Linked DNA regions of Homo sapiens: region 1 is linked to region 2. A link means that fine-mapping ties the variant in region 2 to the expression of a gene that starts in the linked region. Tissue or cell type: whole blood. Region 2 holds a variant in brackets; the other region holds the start of a gene. All regions are shown on one strand. Distances are between the middles of the regions.

Region 1 (6,285 bases), 120 kb after region 2:
ATTACAGACGTTGAGCCACCCCGCCCGGCCCGTATATGTCATTTTAAATTTCCAAATAGCCACACTAAAAAAAGAGAAAAAGAAAAGCAGTGAGATTAACTTTTGTTTTTTTATTTGTTTGTTTTGAGACAGTGTCCCAGGCTGGAGCACAAAGGCACAATCTCAGCTCACCGAAGCCTCAATCTCCTGGGCTCAAGGGATTCTCCCACCCCAGCCTTCCGAGTAGCAGATTCTCCCACCTCAGCTTCCCGAGTAGCTGACTACCGGCGTGCGCCACCACGCCCAGTTAATTTTTTGTATTTTTTGTAGAGACAGGGGTCTCACTATGTTGCTGAGGCTGGTCTTGAACTCCTGCACTCAAACGATCCTCCTGCCTCAGCCTCCCAAAGTTTTGGGATGACAGGCATGAGCCACTGCATCCTGCCAAGATTAATTTTAATGATCTATTTTCGTTAATCCAATTTGTCCCAAACATGACCATCTCAACATGCATTTAAGTATAAAAGATTACCAATGACATCTTTTACTTTCTTTCTCATCCGAAGTTTTTAAAATCAGATGTACGTTTCACAGCTGGGACCGCAACTGAAACTGGCCCCATTTCGTGGGCTCCATCGTCCCAAACGGCGGGGGGTCAGTGGCCACCGTACTGGGCATGGCAAGGTCCTTCGTGGTTCAATACCGAACACGGGCAACTCCTTTTCATCCCTAGACAGGTGGGGACAGGAAAATACCCAACTCCTGGCAAATCCACCCAGTCCCGACTCAGGCTCGACCTCGGAGGCCCCGGCCGGGCCTCAGGCGGCCCCACCCCTTTGCTGCCCAGGCCTGACCGGAAGCCCCGCTAATGGGAACTGACAGGTCCCGGTCCCGGTCCTCCCGGGCGGCGCCCCCGCCTCCGCGGACCCCAAGGCCTCTCCCCGCCCGGCCCAGGGCTGCACCCCGCGCGAAAAAATAAAAAAATCAGAAAGGGGGGTAAAAAAGACGGATGAGCCCCAAATTAATGCGCCAAGCTCTCCGCCGGCATCCTTCCCGCCCCCAAGCCCAAGACGCTGAATCGGGATCCCCGCGATCACCAGAGCAGACAGAAATAACCAAAAAAAAAATTTTTTTTTAGTGAAATCACCAAAAAGGAGACATTTTGCCGAGGGAATGGCAGGCAGAAGTGGGTCACGTTATTCTCGGTGGGGGAAGGGGACGGCGCGCCCACCCGTCCCTCCGCGCGCACAGGCCCCGGCCCGGCTCCTCTCAGGGTCCTCTCGGGTCCGCGGGCCCCGGACCCCGCCGCCCCTCCCCCGCCCCGCCCGCCGTCCGTTAACGGCCGCGCGCGAGCACGAGGCGGCGGCGCGCGCGGGGGGGGCGGGGGCGCGGGCGCGCGCGTTTCCTTCATGCCCGGCGGCGTCCCCCTACCCCTACCTGTGGGGACGACGCGCCGGCCGGCGGCAGAAGGCAGGCGGAGGCGGGCGGCGGCAGGCGGGCAGCGGTGGCGGCGGCGGCGGCGGGGCCTGGGTGCTCGCTCGCAGCTCTCCCTCGGTTAGCGGCGGCGGCAGCGGCTCGGTTGCGCCCGCGGCGGCGCCCTCTAGCGGCGGGAGGCCGCGCTTGCCGCCCGGGAGACGCCGCCATTGGCTGCGCCGGAGCTACGGGCTGGGGGCGGTGGCGCCACGTCTGACTGGGGGCAGGGACCTGGGCGCGCCGTTCAATCCGGAGCCCCGGCGTCGACGCGCGGCCCACTGGGTGAGCCAATGGGAAGGCCACGTTGCGCACTGGACGCGCTCGGACTCAAGACTGATTAACCAGCACCGGGGTTTTCTGGGGCCTCGCCTGGGCCGCGGCCTGAGCAGAAGCGCTAGGAGGTAGAACAGCGTCCAGCGGGGAGAGGAGCTAGAGTCGGCATCGGGAAGCCCACCCTGGAGCCTGCTTAGCTTGACGAGCCCTCAACCGGGGCGCCCTGCTCTGCGAAGAGTAACCCTGCATCCTCAGAACAACCGTGATTGTCTTCATTCCTACATATGAGGAACGGAGGCGCGGAGCCCCACGGCAGCCGGGGATCCAAAGACAGCCTCCCTCCAGTTCCATCTGCCGGCTCTTGGAAGGCCTGGATCCCTGTCCTTCAGGGCCCAGCCCAAATGCCGCCTCGTCCATCTGCATTTTACGGCCAGGTGCCCCGCTGCGGGCACGGCTTCTTGTAAAATGCTCAGCTCAGCAGTGGGCGAGGCAGGGTCCCTGCCCCATGGGATGGAGGGCGGAGATCAGGACCCACAAGAGCCCAAAGAAGACCATTTTGGTCGGTGAAGACCAAAGAAATTCAAGCAGGAGGATGTGACAGGAGCTTTTGGGAAAGCCTCTGAGGAGGTGACAGCCATGCAACCGTGTTCGGGGAAGTGTGCCGCAGGCAGAGGGGAAATGAGTGCAAAAGCCCTGAAGCTGGAGTTCGGTGTCTGGATAACAGGAAAGGCCTGCATAGCTGATGTGTGCCAGAGGGGAGAAAGATCTGTGACACAGGGGGGCCGCCATGTTTAATTTGGAGTTTTGTGTGGAAGGGGGTCATTCATTGAGTCTGAATTGGGAGTTCCGAGGTCTCATTTATATTTTAGAAAGTTCTCTCCTGCTACTATGCAGAGATTGGGCTGTAGGAGAGACAAGAGGGGAAGTGGGGACTCTAGCTACAGTAGCTCTTCCAGGGGTCTGGGTGACGTAGATTTACAAACCAGAGTATTAGCTCAGGCTGCCATGACAAAATACCCCAGACCAGGCAGCTTAGACAACAGGAATTTATTTTCTCACAGTTTTAGAGGCTGCAAATCTAAGGTCTGGGTGCCGGCAGGGCTGGTTTCTGGTGAGGCCTCTCTCCCTGGCTTGCAAACAGCTGCCTTCTCACTGTGTCCTCCTATGACCTTTTCTCTGTGAGCAGGAATCCCTGGTGTGTCTTCCTTTTTCTTACAAGAACAACAATTTTACTAGATTAGGGCCCCACCCTATGACTTCATTTAACCCCAGTGACTACCTAAAAGGCCGTATTCAAATAGTCGTATTAGGCCAGGCGCAGTGGCTCACGCCTGTAATTCTAGCACTTTGGGAAGCCGAGGCAGATGGATTGCCTGAGCTCAGGAGTTGGAGACCAGCCTGGGCAACACAATGAGACCCCGTCTTTACTAAAATACAAAAAATTAGCCGGGCATGGCGACGTGCACATGTAATCCCAGCTACTCGGGAGGCTGAGGCAGGAGAATCGCTTGAACCTGGGAGGCAGAGGTTGCAGTGAGCTGAGATCGCGCCATTGCACTCCATATTGGGCGAGAGAGAGAGTCTGTACCAAAAAAAAAAAAAAAAGTATAAGGGTCCTATGACTTCATTTAACCCTAATGACTGCCTAATATGCCTAATAGCCATATTAGGGTTAGAGCTTCAACATACGGACTCCGGGGTGGGTATGTGCGGAGCGGGGAGCGTTTCAGTCCGTAACACCAGGTAAGTGCTGCAACAGATATTGGAGAGCTGATGGGCTGTGGTTTTAGGGAAGCTCCTCTAAGAAAGGGGTGGATTATACCGGGCGCACTGGCTCACATCTATAATCCCAGCACTTTGGGAGGCCGAGGCAGGGGGATCACGAGGTCAGAAGTTCAAGACCAGCTTGGCCAACATGGTGAAACCCTGTCTCTACTAAAAATACAAAAATTAGCCAAGCATGGAGGCAGGCGCCTGTAATCCCAGCTCCTGGGGAGGCTGAGGCAGGAGAATCACTTGAACCTGGGAGGTGGAGGTTGTGGTGAGTCGAGATCGCGCCACTGTACTCCAGCCTGGGCGACACAGCGAGACTCCGTCTCAAAACAAAATAAGAAAAAGAAAGGGGTGGATTATTCTCGTGACCAGAGGCTGCTCATCATTCAGGCCTCAACTACAGTAGCCTCTCTTGGAGAGGCCTTCACTGACAGCCCATCTAAAAGTTGCTCACTAACACAGCGCCCTATCTGATCTTCCAAGCAGTCATCATGATCTGAAATGACCTCGTCTAGTCCTGTTGCCAGAAGGCTCAGGAGGTCTCTGGATACTGGTGACACCCCAGCCCCAGCCAGTTTCCAGGTTCTTGACACCTTGGAGAGAAAGAATTCAAGAATGAGTTGAATGAAGCAAAGGGCAAGAAGGTTTTTTTTTGTTGTTTGTTGTTTTTGTTTTTTTTGAGACAGGATCTCAGTCTGTCACCCAGGCTGGAGTACAGAGGCGCAATCATGGCTCACTGCAGTCTTGATCTCCCGGGCTCGGGTGATTCCCGCCACCTCAGCTTCCTGAGCAGCTGGGACTAGTACCACACCGGCTAAGTTTTTGGGGTTTTTTTTGTTTTTGTAGAGACAGGGTTTTGCCATGTTGCCCAGGCTGGTCCCAAACTCCTGGGCTCAAGCAGTCCTCCCACCTTGACCTCCCAAAGTGCTGGCATTACAGTTGTAAGACACTGCACCGAGCTGCAAGAAGCTTTTATTGCAAAGTGAACATACACATTTAAGAGAGAAGTGCAGGCATGCCCGTGAGAATGAGTCTTGCACAATGGAGTTTGGGTTCCTAATTTTATGGGTGTTTCTTTTAGTTACAGGATGGAATTATCGTTAGGCATTCTGGAAAGGGAGGGGATTTCAGGGACCTCCACCTCAATTACTGTCTCCTTTCTTCCTTATCTGGGTTTGCTGGAAGAAGCATGGACATGTCACCCTGGCCAGAGTTTTGGCCATCTTCTCTCCCTTGGGTTTTCTGTTATCCTATGGTTTATTTGCCTAGTTCCTGTTTCAGCTGTTTGGGTTTTTCCATCCTCCTGTGACCACCCAGTGCTGTTCCTGTCTCAGGCATTTGGGCGCTTGTTTGTGGTCGGCCTCCAACCCTACAGGAGAGCAGAGACTCTGCTTTTTTTGTTTTGTTTTGTTTTTGCTTTTTGAGACAGAGTTTTGCTCTTGTTGCCCAGGCTGGAGTGCAATACATAATCTTGGCTCACTGCAACCTCTGCCTCCCAGGTTGAAGCGATTCTCCTGCCTCAGCCTCCCAAGTAGCTTGGATTACAGGCGTGCGCCGCCACCTCACCCGGCTGATTTTTGTATTTTTAGTAGAGACGGGGTTTCTCCATGTTGGTCAGGCTGGTCTTGAACTCCTGACCTCAGGTGATCCACCTACCTCGGCCTTCCAAAGTATTGGGATTACAGGCATGAGCCACCACGCCTGGCCCAAACCAGTTTCTTTTGTCCTATATTCTCAGCCCCTTGATAGTAGGTAGCACCCCTTAAATACTTCTGGAGTGGATGTCTCAAGCAAGCCTGAGGCTAAGATCTGATTAGAAGCGTGAGTAGGAGATATCCTAATGCAGTGGTGCATGTAGAAAAGAAAAAAGCCTGATGCGGTGGCTCCCGCCTGTAATCACAACACTGGGAGGCTGAGGTGGGCGGATCGCTTGAGGCCAGGAGTTCAAGACCTGCCTGGCCAACATGGCGGAACCACATCTGTACTAAAAATACAAAAATTAGCCAGGCGTTGTGGCGGGTGCCTGTAATCCCAGCTACTTGGAAGGCTGAGGCACTCATGCCACTGCACTCCAGCCTGGGTGACAGAGTGAGATTCCATCTCAAAAAAAAAAAAAAAAAAAAAAGCTCTTGTGATTGCATTGGGTCCACCTGGATAACCCAAGATGGTCTCTTCATCTCAAGATTGTAACTTAATCCCAATAGCAAACTCCCTTTTGCTAGGTAACAGGTTACTGGGGTCAGCATGTGGACATCTTTGGGGAACCATTATTCTGCCTACCACAGAGAGCAAAGTAAAGGACATCTGCGTATGGGTGTGCCTGCTTCCTGGAATCCCCATCTCCAGCCCTTGTTGAGGTGATGACACTCCCTATTCCCCCACCCCTGGTAGCACTAGGTGCTGTAGTGCTGAGGAAAATAGACTGACTCATTCCTCAGGCTTCCACTCTAGTGGGAGAAATTTTCAGTTTCTTCATTGGATATTACACTGACAAGTACACTCTCTAAGGACCTATTATGTGCCCCATGCCTGAGGGTACAAAGTTGGATAAGACAGGATTCCTGCCCTCACCCAGCCTACGGTCAGGTCAAGGATTCAGGCTGTGTTCATCAGTGATTCTAGGGGTGGCCAGGGTAGGCGGAGGAGTCTGTGGAGCCACCTAGGAGTGACCTCTTCATTCTCTCCAGAAATACTTACAGAGCACTTACTCTGTGCCAGATACTATTCTAAATTCATGGGATGTGTCAGTACAGAACAAAGATCACTATCCTAATGAAGTTTACATTC
Region 2 (7,877 bases):
GTTCGTTGCGGGGGTCAGCGTGGCTGGCGAGCAGGGCATATTGGGGATGTGTAGTGTTCGGTCCTGCAGGTCATTGTGAGGACTTGGAAGGCGTCCTGGCTGCAGTGGCCCCTGAGGGTGGGCAGGGAGATCCTTAGCGCCTGCGGCAGCCTGTCTCCTGGAGTCAGGGGGAAGGCAGTGGAATGGAGGGAGGGCACCTCCTCTGCCCAGGGCCCTCTGCAGAAGCTGCCGGTTTCCCCGGGCCTGGTCCCTGGACAGACGCTGGGGGCGTTGACTTAGCTGCCTTTGTCCTTCAGGCAAACCTGGCTTCTGGGGAAACTCCTGGTTGGGTAAGAATCATTTCTCCTTAAGGGTGCTGTTCCTCAAGGACGCAGCAGGTTCGACCCTATTTGGAGGGAAAACCTCCTTCCAGTGCTGTCTGCCTGTGCTGATGTCAGTCTTATCCAAAGGGAACAAAAAGCCAGACGTGTCGTTCTGAGTGCCGACCGCACGCCCAGTCCTGTGTAGAACGCGTCTCGGGCCTGTCCTCATCCTCACTGACCCCGGGTGCAGCCAGCGTTTGCTCTGTTTGTGGCGAGCGAGGCAGGAGAGGGAAGAAAGTGCAGGGTCTTGGGACTCCAGAGAACCTGCCAGCCTCAGCACTGCGGGGCAGCAGAGGCAAAGCCCTGGCCTCAGCATGCTCTCACTGGCTGTGCCTTGGGTGTCACCTAGAGGGTTGACAGGGTGCCTGGAGCTGGGGACTCTTAGACCTTATGTGCATTCCATAGCCACACTGTCCTCCGCCACTTGGCAGGCCCACCCATGGGTGAACTCCGTGGCTCGGCCAGGTGGAGGTGGTGGTCCCAGCCCTCCAACTTCTGGCGTCATTCTTTCAACATGTGGAGCACAGGCTTGGCCTGGCCTGGGAGGGGCCTCATCCCCGCTCCCACCCAAATCAGCTGGTGCCCCGACTCCTGGCACTTGCCAGGGGGACCCTCTCTGCCTTCAGAGCCTTAGCCCTCACCGTGCCCCCTGCCAGGAACACTATTCCCCATCAGCACCGCCTCCCTGCCTCCCACCTGCCCACCCAGGTTAGCATCTTGGCACCTGGTTGCTGTGTTCCTGACAATGGCACCCTGTATTGTGAGTGACCGGCATTTGGGGTACTAACCAGTTACAGTCTGGCGCCTGCATTAGATGCTAAGCACCATCAGGGAGGGAGCCTCTGTCTCACCCTCCCTGCCTCCCCGAAGCTTTCCCAAGTGCCTGTCTCCATCTCCCGGGACACTCTACCCTGTTGCTTCCTTGGTTGGCCTCCGTCCAAACCACACAAGGGACTCTACCGCCCAGCTTCCTTCTCAGATGGTGTGCCGCGTTCCAGGGGTCTTCCCAGGCCCGATGCAGTGCCTGGTGACAAAGGCTGTTGTCCAGTACACCCTCTCACAGGTGTCCCCAAAGGACCTGCCTGTTCTGTATATGATGTCTGTTTGGGAGAGGGACTGATGTCATTGTCATTTCTTTTTCTTTTTTTTTTCTTTTTTTTTTTTTTTTTTTGAAGAGACTCTTGCTCCTGTCGCCCAGGCTGGAGGGCTAGAGCGCAGTGGTGAGATCTCGGCTCACTGCAACCTCTGCCCCCCAGCTTCAAGCAATTCTCATGCCTTAGCCTCCCAAGTAACTGGGATTACACGCATGTGCCACCATGCCCAGCTAATTATTGTATTTTAGTAGATACGAGGTTTCACTATGTTGGCCAGGCTGGTCTCAAACTCCTGGGCTCAAGTGATCTGCCGGCCTCAGCCTTCCAAAGTGCTGGAATTACAGGCATGAGTCACTGCACCTGGCCATTTATCTGCTTTCAAACCCCCATCTCTGGCCATTAGGAGGCCCCAGTTGCCCTCAGTCCCTGAGTGGTCATGAACACTGAGTTGGGGCTGGGCTTCCCGAAGGCACACCTTCAGCTGAAGAACCAGAACCATGTCTGGCCCTCTGGCATCCTTTGCTGCAGCTGTCGCTGTCGCAGTGTTCCCGGCTCTGCCGCCAGCGAGGGTGACTCACCTGCCTGGTACAGCAGCACTCGGGGTTTCAAAGGTCATGAACAGGAGCTGGGTGAGCGTGGGTGAGCAGACGCCTTCGAACGCCGGCCAGCATGCTTTTTGTCAGGGTGAGGGTGGGATGGGCAGGTCTGAGAACGATTAAAAATAGACCCCGTGGAAGTGCTAACCGCAGCTCGTCAACCTGCTTTGTCTTTCAGGACTCCCGTGTCCAGCCTGAGTTCCAGCCTCACTGAGTGGCCACCCCCAAAGTGCTGCCAGCCGAGGAAGCCCCCAGCACTGACCATGTCTATTATGGACCACAGCCCCACCACGGGCGTGGTCACAGTCATCGTCATCCTCATTGCCATCGCGGCCCTGGGGGCCTTGATCCTGGGCTGCTGGTGCTACCTGCGGCTGCAGCGCATCAGCCAGTCAGAGGACGAGGAGAGCATCGTGGGGGATGGGGAGACCAAGGAACCCTTCCTGCTGGTGCAGTATTCGGCCAAGGGACCGTGCGTGGAGAGAAAGGCCAAGCTGATGACTCCCAACGGCCCGGAAGTCCACGGCTGAGCCAGGATGCAAGGCTCCTGGTCCTGTTTGCAGCCGGCCAAGAGGCGCTGGGAGGGGCAAAACCATACGGATGCGCTGCTGTCTGAGAGGAAGGGCTGACACTTGCTGGCATGGCCTCTGCGGGCTTCGTCATCGCATGCACTGATGCCCGGGGACCTGGCTGTCCTGGGCTTCCCCTCGGCCTCCAGGTGAGGCTGCCCATTGCAGGCACTGGGCAGGCCTGACCTTGCTGGGGCTCATGGCCCTGTAGCGCTTTTGTTACTTGAATGTCTAGCTGAGCCTGTTTTTGATGGAGCTACTACTGTAATGCGTGAACTAACAAACCTGTGAACTGTAAATAGGCCCCTGGAAGCACGTGCTTAAGCCCTTTTGCTGATTTTTAAAAATATCATCTAGCGCACACGGGACTGGTATTCTGGCTGTACTAATGACAAGCTGAGTCAAGACCCTGGAGGGTCATAGGCTTGTAAAGGCCCACGCCACACTCGGCAGGGGTCTCTCATGTGTGTCCATCTGCGTGTATGTCAAGGAAGTGAGATGCCAATTTGGGGTCTTGAGGCTGACCAGTTGGGGTGCTTGGGTGATCTCTGCTTCATTAGTCATGGGTGGAAGAAAAACCACACCCCCCGCACCCCTCCGTTCTTTCTGCATAGACTCACTTGTTAAATAGCAGTTCTGTTGAGAGTGGAGTTACTGCAGGGAAGCTACCGGACCTGCCTGGGAGCCAGTGAAGGGCGAGTCAGGGCACGCGTCCTGGAGGCTGCCAGCGTCCTTGTAGCAGAGCAGTTTCTTGCC[G/A]CTTGGGTCTTCAGCACGCCAAGCCCCCCACCAACCCTCCACCCCGAGTGAAGGCTTCGCTGAAATTGCTTTGGTCCTCATAGAGCCTGTGGTGGCTACTTTTGGTCTGAAACCCACTTGGCCCAGGAAAGAGAAAAGGTTGTATGTTTTGTGTTGGTGTTTCCTATTTTCTGCACTGGAGGGGAGGGGACTGTTGAGGTTCTGTCTTTTTTCTTCTTTTCCTCTTCCCTCTTCACATCACTTGGCTTCCTTTCCTCTCTGATGACCGTCCGCCTATGGGGTTCTGACTTCACTTTCCTCAGCGGGTCTCCAGTCCCCTGACCCAGCTCTAAAGGCACTTAGGACCCAGGGAACATTTCTCACGTGCACATTCCCCTAAGAGCCACCAGACTGCTTCCTGCCAGCCTGTGCTTGCGGCAGGGAGCCGGGGCAGGGCAGAGGTGAACTTGAAGTTCAGGACTTGACTCTCCCACAGGTGGTGAGCTGGTGGCTCTCTGGTGAGCTAGTGTCTCCACAGCCTGTCTCCAAGGCCTCCCCTATGTACATTTCAGTGAGCTCACTTTGATTTTTAATCCCACCACAAGCACATACTAATTTTATTTATGATTCAAATGTGACTCGTGCCTGCCCATCCCTGTAATAGATGGAAGGTCAGCCCCGGCTTAACCACAGAGCACTGGCCCTTCATGGCTGAGCTCAGAGCTCTGGCCTCCTGCTCAGACTAAAGGCACCTCCTCTGGCCTCACCCAAGCCTCTTCTAAAAACCATGTTGAATGAATCCACGTTCTGGAACCCCGAGGCGGGAGAAGTAGGGAGCTGTTCGTTTAAGCAGCATACACCTAAATTGGGGGTTTAAACATTAAGTAGGAGCTTGGGGTGGAAGAGGGACAGCCGGCTGGGCCACCTGAGCAGAAGGTGGTAATGAAACACCTCAGCTGGGCTCTTGGGAGACCTTAGGAAGCAGGAGAGGCAACACCTCTGGCTACTGATGGTGTGGCAAGTTCAGAAGAGGTGGTGGTGGGGTAGGCGTGATGTCAGCAGAAGCCCTGCAGGCTGGGTGGGCAGGACACGTGGTGGGGGCCACTGAAACCAGGCCTAGGAGGGAGAACAAGTTCCAAAGGTGCCGACTGGAAGAAGGGGGTAAAAGTTTGCTTTGGTGAGTGAGAAAAGGCTGGGGCGTGTGATCCATCCCCTCACGTTTCAGAACTTCCAGGCTTTCTACCTCGACTCTCACCACAGCCAGCACATACACCTAGGCTGTTTTTCCTTCCTCCACACCTGAGGGACGCAGCAACAGCTAGGATCTGCATTTTCAGGTTCCGAGCCTGACCCCTGGAACTGACCAGCGCTCGATTGTCAGCCTTGGCCTGGGGTTTTGACCTTGCCAGTGAAGTTTCGGTTTTGAAGTGATTAAATGTCACTTCCTCATCAGTTTCACTTCTGGAGGTTTTCTTATCCTACTCCCTGGTGCCAGGGACGTACCTGGGAGTTTGAATCAGGCCCATTTGAGCGTGGCAGCCGTGTTGGGTGAAGGTCCGGGGCTCGGTGAGGCACTGGGGGGGTTTTCGGGAGGAAAATGAAAATGCTTCTAGAATGAGTGAACCACATCATAGCTCTCACTGTTTTTTCAATAGCTACTTTTTTTAGCAGACACCAGAGCCACACTCAAATGGCTAAGTAGGTTATGACCTCTCTGGATTATTTTTGAATGCCCAACTGTTGCATTCAAGTTTTCTGACTAATAAGAAATTAAGCATTCATCCTTCGTATCACTGCAGAAGCAACAGTGGGGGCACAGGGAGGGAACTCTTGACACTGAGCCACTAAAATATGGACTAATTTTTTGGACAAATCTTCAAACGGACTGTGCTACTGTATTTGTCTCAAAGCTACCAAGTTTGTGCAATAAGTGGAAGGGATGTCATCCTTCTTCAATAAATGCTGAATGACATTCAAGCTGATTTTCTAGACCACTGAGAAAATCTTTATTTACAATAAATTTCAATAAAATTTGCATAAATATATTCCCAATGTACAATTTTCACCTCTGATTTCTTCATATCATTTAAAAAGTTAGTCTGTCCTGTTCTCCTTATTCCTTTCAGACACCAGTGTGGCGCTGACATTGGCAGGTGGAGGGGAGCTGCCAGGGAGCTGGGGGGTGGCTGAGGGCTCAGGCTGCTTGGGGTGGACCTCTCTCTGGGCCGCCAGGCTTTCAGCTCCATCCCTGCCCTCCAGTTTCCTCTCCATGGTCGCCACCAGGATCTTGAGCCACGTGTTCTCGGTAAGGAGGTTTTCTGAGGCATCGGCCAGCTCCTGCAGCTTGCGGGCCAGCTCCTGCAGCTCACGTGTCTTCTGCTCATAGAGGGCCTGCAGCTGCTCACTGTGTGCGTGGAGCAGGCTGTGCTGCTCTTCCAGGGCCCGCTGCTGCTGCCGCAGCCGGTGCTCATCTCTGCGGGCACTGGAGAGCTGGGACTCCACCTGCACTTGTGCTCGCTGGAGGCTGCTTATTTCTGCTCTCAGTTTCTGGATCTCTCTCTCCAAGTGGGAGATGTGCCCCCGCTGTAAGACTGCCTCGCTCTGAAGACACTCCTTGGTAGGAGAGTTAGCCACATTCTGGGGGCTGGAAGCAGGGTCTGAGTGATGCAAAATGAACCTCAACAGGTTTGGAAGGGTGATGGGGACGTCTTCGGGGTATTTCACACTTAGGTCCTTTCTGGAGAGAGAGGGAAAGGAAGCAAAGACAGGAGTCACACCAACACAATGAGTCCAAAAGCAGGCTGTACCTGAGGCCAGGCCATCTACTTCTCACCAAGAAAAGACGTTCCGTGGATTTTACTTACTGAAAGTAAGGAAAATGTTGCCTGGGCAAGAAATTCTCTACAAAGCTGAGGCTGTCCCATATGCTCGTTCTGTAATTAAGATGGCTTATCTGTTCCTGAAGCCAGAGCTCAGCTTCACCCACACCCTCCAAGAAAGACAAGAGCTCCTAGGCCCAGGCCTAAAGCCAGTGATGCAGGGCCCCAGGAGTGTGTAGGCATGGGGCCTCTGTGTGCTCGGAGATGCCCAGCGGCTGTGTCAGGAAGAGCGTCCAGGGGAGGCAGGAGTGTCCCACCTATGTCCCTCTTGTGCCCACTGACAGTGCCCGGAGAAAAAGGAAGAACTTGAAAGATACCCAGTCTGTTTCTTCAGCAAGCATTTATTACACATTCTCTAAGGCAGGGGTTCTCAACTGGGGGTGACTGTACCCCCATTCCCCAGGTACATCTGGCTCACACCTGGCAACCTGATAACTGGCAAACAGCCCAACCAAAGGACTATGAATTCAGGCTGCCCAGCCCTGAGAGCACAGAATAAGGAAGGAAGGTGACATAGAAAGGGGTTTTCCCTACAGCTTTGTTCCAGGTCCTGATCTAGAGATCTAGAAAATTCCTCTTCAGAACTTGTCATTTAATCGTCTGATGATGTTTCTCTCACATATCTATTTACCTGTGCCTGTACAGCCTGGCTGCAATTGATCAAAACTACCAGCTTTATGCACTTAGGTATGAGGTGGGCCGGCAGCCGAGTTTGTCTCCCTCAGGTGTTAACAGAATGGAAGTCAACAGCAGGGACTCCAGAGCCTGGCTGCCCAGGGCCACTGGACCCGGCCGTAAATTGTTTTATAATTTTGGGGTAAACATTCAACCATCCCCTCCTTTAAAGCTTAGTTTTCTTAACATATAAGCTTTCTTCAAGTGGGGCCCAGCCATTCAAATGACAAAGCTGGGTGTGGTGCTGTGTGCCTGTAATCCCAGTGCTTTGGGAGGCTGAGGTGGGAGGATCGCTTGAGGCCAGGAGTTTGAGACCAGCCTGGACAATATAGTAAGGCCTCATCTGTATAAAAAGTAAGATAAAAAAATTAGCCAGGCAAGGTGGCACACACCTGTAGATCCAGCTACTTAGGAGCCTGAGGTGGGAGGATCACTTGAGTCCAGGAGTTCAAGACTGCAGTGAGCCGTAATTGCACCACTGCACTCCAGCCTGGGCAACAGAGTCAGACCTTGTCTCAAAAACAGAAAACCAAAAAACCCCACAACAACTGAAAACACATCGTGGCCCTGTCAAGTGGGCCCATGGAAGAATACCAGACGCTGGACCTGCCCCCACGTTCTGCGGCACAAGCCTGGTCTTGTAAGGCAGAGTAAACGTGAATTACTTCCCAGAAAAAGCTGCCAAGATCCCTCAGGATGTCTACCTCCAGACATTTACAGGACAGTGACATCCGTGAGCATGCTATCTGCTAACTAAGAGGTCTTGGTGCACTCTCCATCAATGTCCCTAATGGGCACACTAAAATACTGCCACACTTTGTGAAAGTAGCAGGGACAGAGAATGTCAACAGTCTACTTCCAGGAAAGCAGTCATGTGAAACTATGGTGGGAAGAGGTCCCCATGTCTATGCAACTCTCCTCTAACCCTGAGGGAGTGGCAGGGCACACCTCTAAAAAACTGTGATTC

Evidence for each region. PIP is the estimated chance that this variant, and not a neighbour inherited with it, causes the effect.
Region 1: it holds the start of ZC3H7A, and the variant in region 2 is fine-mapped to the expression of ZC3H7A in whole blood (INTERVAL, PIP 0.94).

What each region holds. Positions count from the first base shown.
Region 1 is chr16:11,795,708-11,801,992 of GRCh38, forward strand. It overlaps ZC3H7A (zinc finger CCCH-type containing 7A), which reads right to left and starts at 1,551. Exons shown (of 23, transcript NM_014153.4): 1 at 1,417-1,551. RefSeq lists silencers at 783-942, 1,425-1,834 and an enhancer at 1,250-1,787.
Region 2 is chr16:11,673,745-11,681,621 of GRCh38, forward strand. SNN (stannin) reads left to right here. Exons shown (of 2, transcript NM_003498.6): 2 at 2,231-5,408. The coding sequence starts at 2,316. The coding sequence ends at 2,582. TXNDC11 (thioredoxin domain containing 11) reads right to left here. Exons shown (of 12, transcript NM_015914.7): 12 at 5,339-6,093. The coding sequence ends at 5,451. Among named protein-coding and RNA genes, the nearest start is that of SNN, 9.2 kb to the left of the region's middle. RefSeq lists an enhancer at 7,475-7,831. The variant G/A (reference allele first, on the strand shown) is at 3,378.